Homo sapiens: one gene and its partner. The protein of the gene in region 2 purifies or fractionates together with the protein of the main gene of each other region. This does not show direct contact. Each region holds a gene or a part of one and is shown on either strand. Other genes may lie near its edges.

Region 1 (4,492 bases), on a different chromosome or scaffold from region 2:
TGTTTCTTGAAGCATGCATTGCTGGAAATTAGAAATTCTTTGGGGAGAAGTTTGGAGTTATAGGTGGACTTTGGGGTTTTATTGATATTGAAATAAGATTTATTTTTCTGTATTCATTAATTTGGGCCAGGTAGTAGAAACCAAAAGTAGTATCTTTTGAGAACCATCTGTGACTTTATGCAATGTGCATCTTGACTCTTAAGCCTTGATGCAAAGCCACAGTAATGGAATCCAATAGGATGAGCTGCAGCTCTCTCATCTTTGCTGCTCTGATTGGCTGAACACAAAGCCCAGGATGGATTTCCTCTTTTTTAACCCTGGCTAGGGGTTAAAAAAGTGACCTTAGTCACTTTCCTTTGCTATGCCTCATGATTTCTCTCCTCTCTGGATATCCCATGGCCTCTAGCAATTGGATCTGGTGGGAGGTAGATTTAATCATTTACAGCAGCCAATTAAACTATCTGCACAAATGGAAATGTTCTGTACCTGCACTAATATGGTAGCTTCTAGCCACATATGGCTATTGAACACTCTAAGTGTTGCTACTACAACTGCGTAACTGAATTTTTAATTTTAATTAATTTTAATATACACAGTCACATGTGGCCAGTAGCTACCCTACTGGATAGTGTAGATTTATAAACAGGCACAGCCATTTGCCACAGTGAGTGGTTTGTGCCCTAACATGACAGTGTCAGACTCCTATGATATTATAATGGCAGTTATCAAAAATATTTGTTATTGGGGCCGGGCGCAGTGGCTCACACCTGTAATCCCAGCACTTTGGGAGGATGAGGCGGGTGGATCACCTGAGGTCAGGAGTTCGAGACCAGCCTGGCCAACATGGCAAAACCCCATCTCTACTGAAAATACAAAAATTAGCCAGGCATGGTGGCACATACCTGTAATCCCAGCTACTGGGGAGGCTGAGGCAGGAGAATCACTTGAACCTGGGAGGCAGAGGTTACAGTGAGCCAAGATAGTGCCACTGCACTCCAGCCTGGGCAACAGAGTGGGACTGTCTCAAAAAAAAAAAAAAATTATATATATATATATATATATATATGTTATTGGGCTGCCTCTGAAGTAAAGCATCACAAGGCTCTTTTGCCACCAGTGCAGCACTAAAGTGGTAAATAGTAGCACAGCTTTTGATGAAGGAGTTAAGGTATCAAGAAAGATTACCTTATGTTCCAAAGAAAAATACTTACAAGAAACGAGCCCCCTTATGAACCATGCTTCAAACACTGTTTCTTACTAGGAATTTTGCAAGAATACAGTAAAAAAAAAATTTTAAGGAATTCCTCTCCAGCAAAATCCATGAGATGGTGCATAGGAGTTATATTTACAAAGCATCATTGTTATTCTCTCTTGCATTGGTGGTGATAATAGCCAAGTCATTTCTGAGGCTGTCACAACACACTTCACAAACACCGTCTTTTGTTTTGAAATGTTGTAAATCATTGTTATAGTCCCCGTAATTATGGAAAGGCCATTCAGGTCAATTATTACTTTTTAACAGAAAAATTATTTGAAAACAAACTGAATAATAGTGGGTAAAATGATCTTTTATTTCATTGTATATAAAACATTGTCTTTCTTTTAACAGCAGATTGCTGTTCCCCGCAATGATGAATGGGCACGGTTTGGCCGAACACTTGCAGAAATTAATGCAAACCGAGCTGATGCAGAGGAGGAAGCAGCTACCCGAATACCTGCTTAGTTCCTGAAAAGGGGAGTGTAACTAGTGGATTTGGGAAAGGTTCTTAAGTAGATCCTGAGACTATTTGCATGCTTCTGTCTAAATGATAATTAAAAGGAAATTTCATGGATTAAACCATGGGTTTAATGCAGCAAGGAAACTTACAATGTCCCTTTATATATAACATGCATCTTGTTTTGGATTTGTGTCATTTTTTAATATAGCTGATTGACTTCACAGAAAGCAGCTTTTTTGAATTCTAATACATAGGTGTATATTTGGTATTAGTTATTTTGAGTTCTTTTCAACTTATAACACTGTATACAGTTATTTCTAAAGCACAGATGAAATAAGTTCTGCATATTTTTAAATAATCACAGTTCCCTGTTATACAGATAATGTTCTCACTACCCATAATATGTAGGAACATTGTTTCTCCTTAGCCGTAGTATGCATACACCTATCCATGTTCATTCTGACATCCTTTGTTGTCTTTATAATTCATGTGGTAGTTACCTATAAATAAAAACAAATATGCGTTAACTTTTCAAATTTTCATTTTTACTCCTTACAACTTGAATTTTTCCATCTTTTATAAAATATATTTTTTCCATATCTTTCTTTAAGCTCCTGCTGTGAGCAGCCATCTCAAATCCTATAGAGCTGTGTACCCTAAATATACCATGTGGTATATACTATAGATCTCCCAGTGCATTATGAATTGATGTCTAGATAATCTGTTGGTGAAAAAATTTCCCCTAGGTTAACTTTTGCTTTACTACTTTATATTCTTTCCATCTAAGACATATTTCCTTTAAAGGATAAATAGAAAGCTGCCTATAATTTTCACTGATTAAGAACTATGTATGTGACCTCACTGAGAGTAAAATCTTTGAGAGAAATTGATTTCATGATTTCAGTAGCCATAAAGGCAAAGTGCTCAAATGGACCCATACTTTGGCATTAAAATCTACATCTTGAGATCTGTTGCCACAGCATTGTCTACAAGTCCGAAAGGTAGGTGACAAATATCTAAGAATCAGTATTGAAATCAGTGAATTTCAGGAATAGAGGAAAGGACTATGATCAGATCTTGATTTTATCTACTTTAAATTGTCTATTTATTTGATCCCAACCTTTTGTACTTCTGAAGTGTAACTGTCTTTTATTCAACAGAACATGAACTAGGAAGAGAGATTAGAAAACAGAATGTGAACATTTTTCTTTTAATAATTGTAACAAAGATTTGTTGGGAGAGAAATTTCCAAATAATGAGTAGTGTATAGTGTAAGGAATAATTGACCTGGAATTATTGGCCCCAAACTCTGATTCTTGCTGAAGCATCTATGAGAAGTGTGATTTTAGCCAAGTCTGTGCCGCATTCTTTATATGTAGGAATTAAGTTTTGATTTAATGATTTCTGAATTTTCTTTCAGCTCTACTCAATTAAGGGGTATCAGTATGTGAAATGGAATATAGAAAAGTAGGCAATTCTTTACTTTTCTATATTCAGTTTCATAAATTAATACCCCATAATTGCCCATTATATACCAAAGACAATATCTCAAGTTATCTCATTGTAGCAGTGTCTGTGAGTCAAAACTTCAATTTTAGTAGAGTCACACTTTCTTTATATAGAAAAATTCATGTACTCACTACTCATGTAGTTACTGTATCTTTACCTTCAGTTTGTAAAAATGACTAAAAGTAGGGAAAACAAGTGTTAAAACATAATGGATAAGAAAAGGTTGGAAATCATATGGCAAATCACATGTTCCTCAGCCTCAAGGTGTGTTTAGTTGTGAAAGAAAGAATAAAATTGTTTAAATATTTCACTTTTTGGGAATGACTTCTCCCCTACTCCCCCAGAAAATGCGATGTATACCTTTGCCCATTCAACTTTAGTCCATATTTTTAGGAACACACAAATTTACTTTAAGGAATTACCTTTAAAGTTGACTATATAATAGCAAAAGAGAAAGTATTGAGACTGTCAGTGTTGATAAAGCTTCTAGCAAGATTAGGTTGACTAGAAGTGCATCACAGTTCTTTATACTTTTAGAACTAAAAGCCTTATAATTTTGAAAAATATCCAGTTACAGAAATTGTACCTTATCAGTTATACTTTTTTTCTGAGTAAGAAAACAAGCTATAGCTTTCTGGTTAATTTCTTATTTTTCGTTGTTTGGTTTTTGTCTTTTTGAGTGGAACGTTAAAGTTTATTACCTTCATGTTAAGGAATATCCAGCTTCACAGACAATTAACTTGCAATAAATCTCTGAAATAATCATTTTTTGGTATTATTTAAACCAAATATGCATTGGTAGAAGCTTTCTTCCTGTTTACAGATCCAGCTCCCTATAAAGTTTAGAAAATCTCTTTGTATAAAATGTTGTTACAATAATGCTGAAATACTGCATCTCAAAGGAATGGATGACTTAAAATTTAGTGGGAGGAACTATAGGAAAGTCGTTTTAGGAATGATTGGTCCTAGTCTTTCAGTGTTGTTAAAATGTTTTAGTCTGTTCTGTACTAGTGTGGATAGACTAATATCCACCCCTTGAACCATACAGAAAGACTTGAATGGATGAGTGAAAATCTGCTGTGAAGCATATCATACTATCTTTGCTTTATATTGAGTAGTGCATTACTTTTAAGTCAGAAAGCCAGTAGGTTTTTTTGTTTGTTTGTTTTTCCCTAAAGCGCTGCCATAAATTTCAGTGGTCACCTGCCACTCACTGGGCGGTGTATTTTTAAATGTCTTTTCCACAACCCCAGTATTTCAACATT
Region 2 (7,302 bases):
AATAAAATAAAACAGTAATGGGGCAGAGTGACTAGGATAGAGAGAGGGTCTGCTTTGAATAGTGTGGTGTGGGAAGGCCTTTCTCAGAAGGTAATTCTTCAGCAGAGACTTGAATGATAGGAGGGAGCTGTCACCATTTGAAGAGCCAGGGAACAGTGTCCCTGACAGAGGGACCAGCAAGTGCAAAAACTTGGTGCATCCAAAGAACAAGGGGTACTGACTTATTGGGAGAACAACAGGCAATGAAGCTGGTAGGCCATCATAAGGAATTAGAATTTCTAAAAAGTGCAAATGGCCATGAAGGGATGAATGATGTTGGTATTGCAGGATGTGCCAAATGTTCTTGCTGGATTTGCCATGTCACCTGAAGTCATAGTTTGTGCATACTAAAGTGTGCAAAAAAATATACCAGACAACCTCTTTGATTTGGATTACAAGAATTATACTGTGGACAGAAACTACTTGAAGATTGATTTTTGCCATTCGGTATGAAGGAAGGGTTTGACAAGGGCTTACTAGTAGTAGAAACCAGGGGGGAGTTTGGCTAGGTAAATCTTTTAGGAGAAGAATGAGTGTTAAAAATCTTCTGCAGCATTTTAGTCTATCCATCTCTAGGAGCCAAGTGGTTTGTTCATTATGAGTCCTACCTATTTCTTAAAACAGTACCCTATTAACCAACCCTTGCAGCTACTTTGTTAACCAGGTTTAAGTTACAGAATGGACTTGAAAGAAATTGTACTAACAGCATTTTTGGATGACTCCCCTCTCCCCAGTGTGTATAACTAGGAAGGTTGGGGCTGATGTGCAGTCATCTCACTATGGGTGATGAAACTGATCACACTGCACCAAGCAAGCAAGGGCCCCACAATGAGACATTTGGAGCAATGGCCACTTTAGCACATTCACCTTCTGACTCTGAATGGGGTTTATTCAGCCAAAGGGTGTCAGCCTGGGAATTTCCTGGGGCATATTACCATTACAGGGTTGGGCTGAAATTAGTCCCTGTCTAGGATATATTATCTGAAGAGAGTCCAGAAATGAGGTTGATGGATGGATGCAGAATTGAGAGATCAATGGAAAAAAGTGTGAAAAAACTGGGGGTACCAGCCTAAGCAACAGAAACCTGGATGAGCTGAAAACTCCATGCCTGCATCAGCCCATTGGACTTTGTCCTACGTTTTAAGTTTCTTTGCCCTAATTAGCAGTGTGCTATTCAGAACAAGTCAACCTCTTTGTACTTTGCTCAATTTTTTTATCTATACATTTCTCATCTGTGTATTAAAGCAATCATTCTGAAACCATGTTTCAGCATCGGCACATTTTCAAAAAAATTTTCACTAAAAATTATGGTGTCTTGGGGTGATAAGCATTCTTATTTAGGGTCAGGTTCTGAATTTCCAACTCCTGAGGCACCTCTGAGTAACATCTAGAGATTCTGATCCACTGGGTTTGGGCTAGGGCCCAGGAATCTGCCATTTGAACAAGACTCTGAGATGATTTTTATTCAGGTGTTTTGGGGATCATGCTTTGGGAATGTCTACTCTAAGATTCTCTGGAACAACCTTTGAAAAGCTCTGAATTAGCTGATTTGCAAGCAGCCTTCTTGCTCTGACAACCTGTGAATATATCAGCACATGATAAAGACAAAGCTAGGTGTCACATTTCTACCAAGGGCAGAAGAGGAAAAGAAAGGGATTAAATCAGAGGTCAAAAATAGACAAGCAAAAGATGTGTTTTGCTTGGTCTACATGGCATTTTTTAAATTCAAGAAGTTCAACTCTTAATTTTTGACGTCTTTTTTAAAAAAATCAGAAAATGTGCCAATTCTGATCCCTCATTTTCATGTGCCATACTTTGGTTGGAGTCAAATCATAGCTGTCTCCTTAAGACAGAACTGTTTATCTCATTTTCCACAATCCTCCCCAATCCCAATAGTGTCACACCTCCTGCACTCCATTCATTTACATCCTGCATCTTGGCATTTGAGTCTACAACTCTTAGTTGTAGCATTTGAGTTTGGTACAACAAAGGGTCCATCTTGAAAATCCTTCTCCACTACAAAGGTTGGGAAATTTCAGTTCTTTAAAAATAGGACAGGCCTAATAAGCCTCAGGTAGACTTGATGCACTTCTGGAGGTAGCACATGAATCCTAATGCAAGGAGTCTGTAATTTCTAGAGGCAGGTTGGTTTGTTTGCTGTCTGTGGGCTTTGTCATTCACTGTGCTGTGCTCACCATTTCTTGTAGGTGTGCTGATGTGGGAAGTTTTCAGTGAAGGCAAAATCCCGTATGAAAACCGAAGCAACTCAGAGGTGGTGGAAGACATCAGTACCGGATTTCGGTTGTACAAGCCCCGGCTGGCCTCCACACACGTCTACCAGATTATGAATCACTGCTGGAAAGAGGTCAGTGGAGGAAGTGCTTCCCCATGCATTGTCGTATACAATTTGAGGACCTCCCTCCTTCCCTAGAGAAAGGAACCCTCTCAGAAGGATGAGGCAGGAGGGATAACTAATATAGATTAGCAACAACATGACTTTGAGGATCTGTTAACGGGATAGATCCCCCATCCCTAAAGGAGCTGAAGGCGACCTTAAATATTATTTGGTTTGCTACATAATGTCACAAGCTATAAGCATAGCTTCAGAGAGGAGGATGGGGTGTGGCCTATGCCAGCTTCCTTCTCGATTTTCTGAGAAGAGAAAAAAAGTCTGTAACATCATAAAACCATTAAAAGCACAGGAAGTTAGTTCTATAACTTGGGGAACAAAGTTCACTTGCACTATGAAAATATTAAAATGGCTTAATTTGAGTTCATTTTATTCATTCTGCATTTAAAATGGGGAGCCAATTCCTCTGTACCCGCCCAGGTGGCTCATTTACCCCAACCTTGGATTGCAGGCCATGGCTTGAGCCCCATCACTATGAGTCTTAGTCTTTGCTGTCTTTGCTGAGTTAGAAAATCATACATTTCAGCCAAAGTGGAAAGTTGCTGAAACAGAGAATTAATAAAAATTCTGATCATTGTACGACAACAAGGTGGAATACAAAAAATTTGGAACACTAGGATTTTGTCTCAGCTTTACCATTTATTTGCCATTAATCTTTGACAATTCTCTGAACTTCCTTTTTCTTACTGTTAAGAGAATTAAATAATGCTTGGTCTGTGAGTTCATAGAGCTTTTATAATCAGAAACAAAGAAACAATAGAGACATAAAGGAGGGCATAAAACAAATCTTATCCACTTCATAAGGATTAGCTACAATAATAATAATGATGGCTGACATTCAGTTGGCACTTTTTCCCTCTTTTAACCATCATTTATTGATTTTTTTAAATTAATAGTCTTTATTTTTTAACAAAGAGTACAGAGTTCTCATATGCCCACCTCACCTGAACAGTTTCCCTGTTCACTAACATTTGGCATGAGTGTGATACATTTGTTACAATTAGTGAACCTCTATTCATACATTAACTAAAGTTCATAGTTTACATTAAGGTTCAGTCTTTGTGCTGTAGAGTTCTGTAGGTTTTCACAAATTCATGTATCCATCATTATAGTATCAGACAGAATAGTTTTACTGCACTAAAAATCTCCTGTGCTTCACCCATTTATCCCTCTCCTCATCCCCAAACCACTGGCAACTACTGATCTTTTCACTGTCTTCATAGTTTTGCCTTTCTCAGAATGCCATATATTGGCATCATACAGCATGTAGGCTTTTCGGACTGGTTTCTTTCATTTAGTAATATGCTTTAAGGTCCCTCCATGTCTTTTCGTGGCTTAATAGCTCATTTCTTTTTGTTGCCAAATAATATTCCATTGTATGGATATATCATAGTTTATTTATTTACCTACCAAAGGAAATCTTGGTTGTTTTCAGTTTTTGTGTTTGTTTGTTTGGGTTTGTGGGGTTTTGTTTTTTTTTTTGAGATGGGGTCTTACTCTGTTACCCAGGCTGGAGTGCAGTGGTGCAATCTCAGCTCACTGCAACCTCTGCCTCCCAGTCTCAAGCGATCCTCCTACCTCAGCCTCCCAAGTAGCTGGGACCACAGACATGTGCCACTAGGCCCAGCTAATTTTTTGTATTTTTGGTAGAAACAGGGTTTTGCCATGCTGCCCAGGTGAGTTCAGGCAATCAATCCACCTCAGGCCTCCCGTAGTGCTGGGATTATAAGTGTGAGTGCTCAGGCAGACTGGTTTCCTTCACTTAGTAATATGCCTTTAAGGTCCCTCCATGTCTTTTTGGCTTGATAGCTCATTTCTTTTTATTGCTAAATAATATTCCATTGTATGGATATGCCACAGTTTGTTTATCTATTTACCTGCCAAAGGAAATCTTGCTTGCTTTCAGTTTTAAACAATTATGAATACAGCTGCTATAAATGTTTATGTGCAGATTTTTGTATATAAATTTTCAACTCAATTGGGTAAATGCCTAAGAGTATGCTTGCTGAATCATATGGTAAGACTATGTTTAACTTTTTAAGAAACTGCCAGAATGTCTTCCAAAGTAGCTGTATTATTTTACATTCCCACCAGCAATGAGAGTTCCTTATTAGCATTCATTGTTTTGGATTTCAGTGGTTCTAATAGATGTGTAGTCATATTACATTGTTGTTTTAACTTGCATTTTCCTAATGACATATGATGTTAAGAACATTTTCATATGCTTATTTGCCACCTGTATATCTTCTTGGTAATATCTATTCAGATCTTTTGCCCATTTCTCAATCAGGTTGTTTGTTTACTTATTGTTGAGTTTTAAGAGTTCTTTGTATATTTTGGATACAAGTCCTTTATCAGATATGTGTTTTGCAAAATTTTCTCCTAGTCTGTGGCATGTCTTCTCATTCTCTTGACAGTGTCTTTCACAGAGAAGACTTTTCAAATATTTTAACAAAGCTCAACATCAACTTATTTATTCATGAATTGTGCTTTTGATTTACATCTAAAAACTCATTGCCAAGCCCAATGTCACCCAAATTTTCTCCTATGTTACTTTTTATTTTATGGAAGTTTTATAATTTTGCATTTTACATTTAGGTCTATGATCCACTTTGAGTTAATTTTCCTGAAAGGTGTCAGGTCTGTGACTAGAGTCATTGTTTTACATATGGATGTCCAATTATTACAGCCCTGTTTGTTGAAAAGACTATACCCTTTCTCCTCTGTTCCTTTGTTAAATGTTAGTTTACTATATTTATATGGATCTATATCTGGGCTGATCCATTAATCTGTTTGTTTATTCTTTCACTAGCACCATCCTCTCCCATTACTGTAGCTTTAGAGTAAGTCCTAAAGTCAGGTAGGGTCAGTCTTCTAGCTTTGTTGTTCTTCTTCATTATTGTATTGGCTCTCTGGGTCTTTTGCCTCTCCGTATAAATGTTACAGTCAGTTTGTCAATATCTAAAAAAAATAACTTGCTGAATTTTTATTAGGATTATATTGAATCTATAAGTCAAGTTGGGAAGAACTAATATTTTAACACTATAGTGTCTTCCTGTCCATGAACATGGAATATCTGTCCATTTATTTAGATCTTCTTTGCTTTCTTTTATTAGAATTTTTAATTTTTTCTCATTTAGATCATGTAGATATTTTCTGAGATTTATACCCAGATATTTCATTTTTTGGTGTTCTTTAGCATTAATTTCTTGATATATTTTTATATGTGATTTATTGAATTCTCAAAACAATTTCATGAGGTAGATACTATTATTATCTCCATTTTACAAATGACAAAACTGAGGTTCAAAGAGGTTAAATAACCTGCTGAATGTCACACAGCTAATTAGTGGTAAAACTGAGATTAAACACTAGTCCCTTGGATTCCAGAATACCTGCTGTTAACAACTAGGACAATGTATATGGAATACAGTCAACATGGAAGCACATACAAAAATCCACAGGGGATGCTGCTATTAAATTCTGGTTTGTTTTGGATTTACCTATGACGCATAAGTACAAGGAACTTACAGAGTTCTTTTTTCCCTCTCCAGAGACCAGAAGATCGGCCAGCCTTCTCCAGACTGCTGCGTCAACTGGCTGAAATTGCAGAATCAGGACTTTAGTAGAGACTGAGTACCAGGCCACGGGCTGCAGATCCTGAATGGAGGAAGGATATGTCCTCATTCCATAGAGCATTAGAAGCTGCCACCAGCCCAGGACCCTCCAGAGGCAGCCTGGCCTGTGGCATCAGTCCCTGAGTCACCATGGAAGCAGCATCCTGACCACAGCTGGCAGTCAAGCCACAGCTGGAGGGTCAGCCACCAAGCTGGGAGCTGAGCCAGAACAGGAGTGATGTCTCTGCCCTTCCTCTAGCCTCTTGTCACATGTGGTGCACAAACCTCAACCTGACAGCTTTCAGACAGCATTCTTGCACTTCTTAGCAACAGAGAGAGACATGAGTAAGACCCAGATTGCTATTTTTATTGTTATTTTTAACATGAATCTAAAGTTTATGGTTCCAGGGACTTTTTATTTGACCCAACAACACAGTATCCCAGGATATGGAGGCAAGGGGAACAAAGAGCATGAGTCTTTTTCCAAGAAAACTGGTGAGTTAAGTAAGATTAGAGTGAGTGTGCTCTGTTGCTGTGATGCTGTCAGCCACAGCTTCCTGCCGTAGAGAATGATAGAGCAGCTGCTCACACAGGAGGCCGGATATTCTGAGAAGCAGCTTTATGAGGTTTTACAGAGTATGCTGCTACCTCTCTCCTTGAAGGGAGCATGGCGAGACCCATTGGATGGATTGGGGTGAACAGTTCAGGTCCCATGCTTGGAGCATTGGGTATCTGATGTCTGCACCAGAACAAGAGAACCTCTGACGGTGGAGAACCATGTGGTGCAAGAAGAGATCTTAGGTCTCTTCTTTTATACCAAGCTCATCTTTTATACCAAGCTGTGCAGGTGACTATGCCTCCTCTTCTGCACAGAATGCTTCCACCAGCATCCTGAGAAGAAATGATTACTTCTGAAAAACATCCTTTTTTCCAGCCTCTGGGAATCAGCCCCCCCTCTCTGCACTATCCGATCCTCATCAACAGAGGGCAGCATTGTGTTGGTCAATGTTCCCTTGGCGAGCAATTGAAACTTGTTTAGGCCCTAGGGTTGAGCAATTTTAAGGTTGAGACTCCAAGTCTCCTAAAATTCTAGGAGAGAAATAAAGAGTCTGTTTTTGCTCAAACCATCAGGATGGAAACAGTCAGGCACTGACTGGGGTGCTTCCAAGAGGCATGAGAGTGCCTACTCTGGCTTGAGCACTTCTATATGCAAGGTGAATATGTACTGAGCTAGGA

Evidence for each region.
Region 1: the proteins of ITK (region 2) and DYNC1I2 purify together in Homo sapiens (affinity purification with mass spectrometry; 2 studies listed by BioGRID and IntAct, with this or other methods). This does not show direct contact.

The regions. Positions count from the first base shown.
Region 1 is NC_000002.12:171,746,167-171,750,658, forward strand, and holds the end of DYNC1I2 (cytoplasmic dynein 1 intermediate chain 2), read left to right. Parts: intron 1-1,609; coding exon 1,610-1,723; 3' UTR 1,724-3,992; downstream 3,993-4,492. UniProt on the Homo sapiens protein: Acts as one of several non-catalytic accessory components of the cytoplasmic dynein 1 complex that are thought to be involved in linking dynein to cargos and to adapter proteins that regulate dynein function.
Region 2 is NC_000005.10:157,246,604-157,253,905, forward strand, and holds part of ITK (tyrosine-protein kinase ITK/TSK), read left to right. Parts: intron 1-2,246; coding exon 2,247-2,404; intron 2,405-6,003; coding exon 6,004-6,075; 3' UTR 6,076-7,302. UniProt on the Homo sapiens protein: Tyrosine kinase that plays an essential role in regulation of the adaptive immune response. Regulates the development, function and differentiation of conventional T-cells and nonconventional NKT-cells.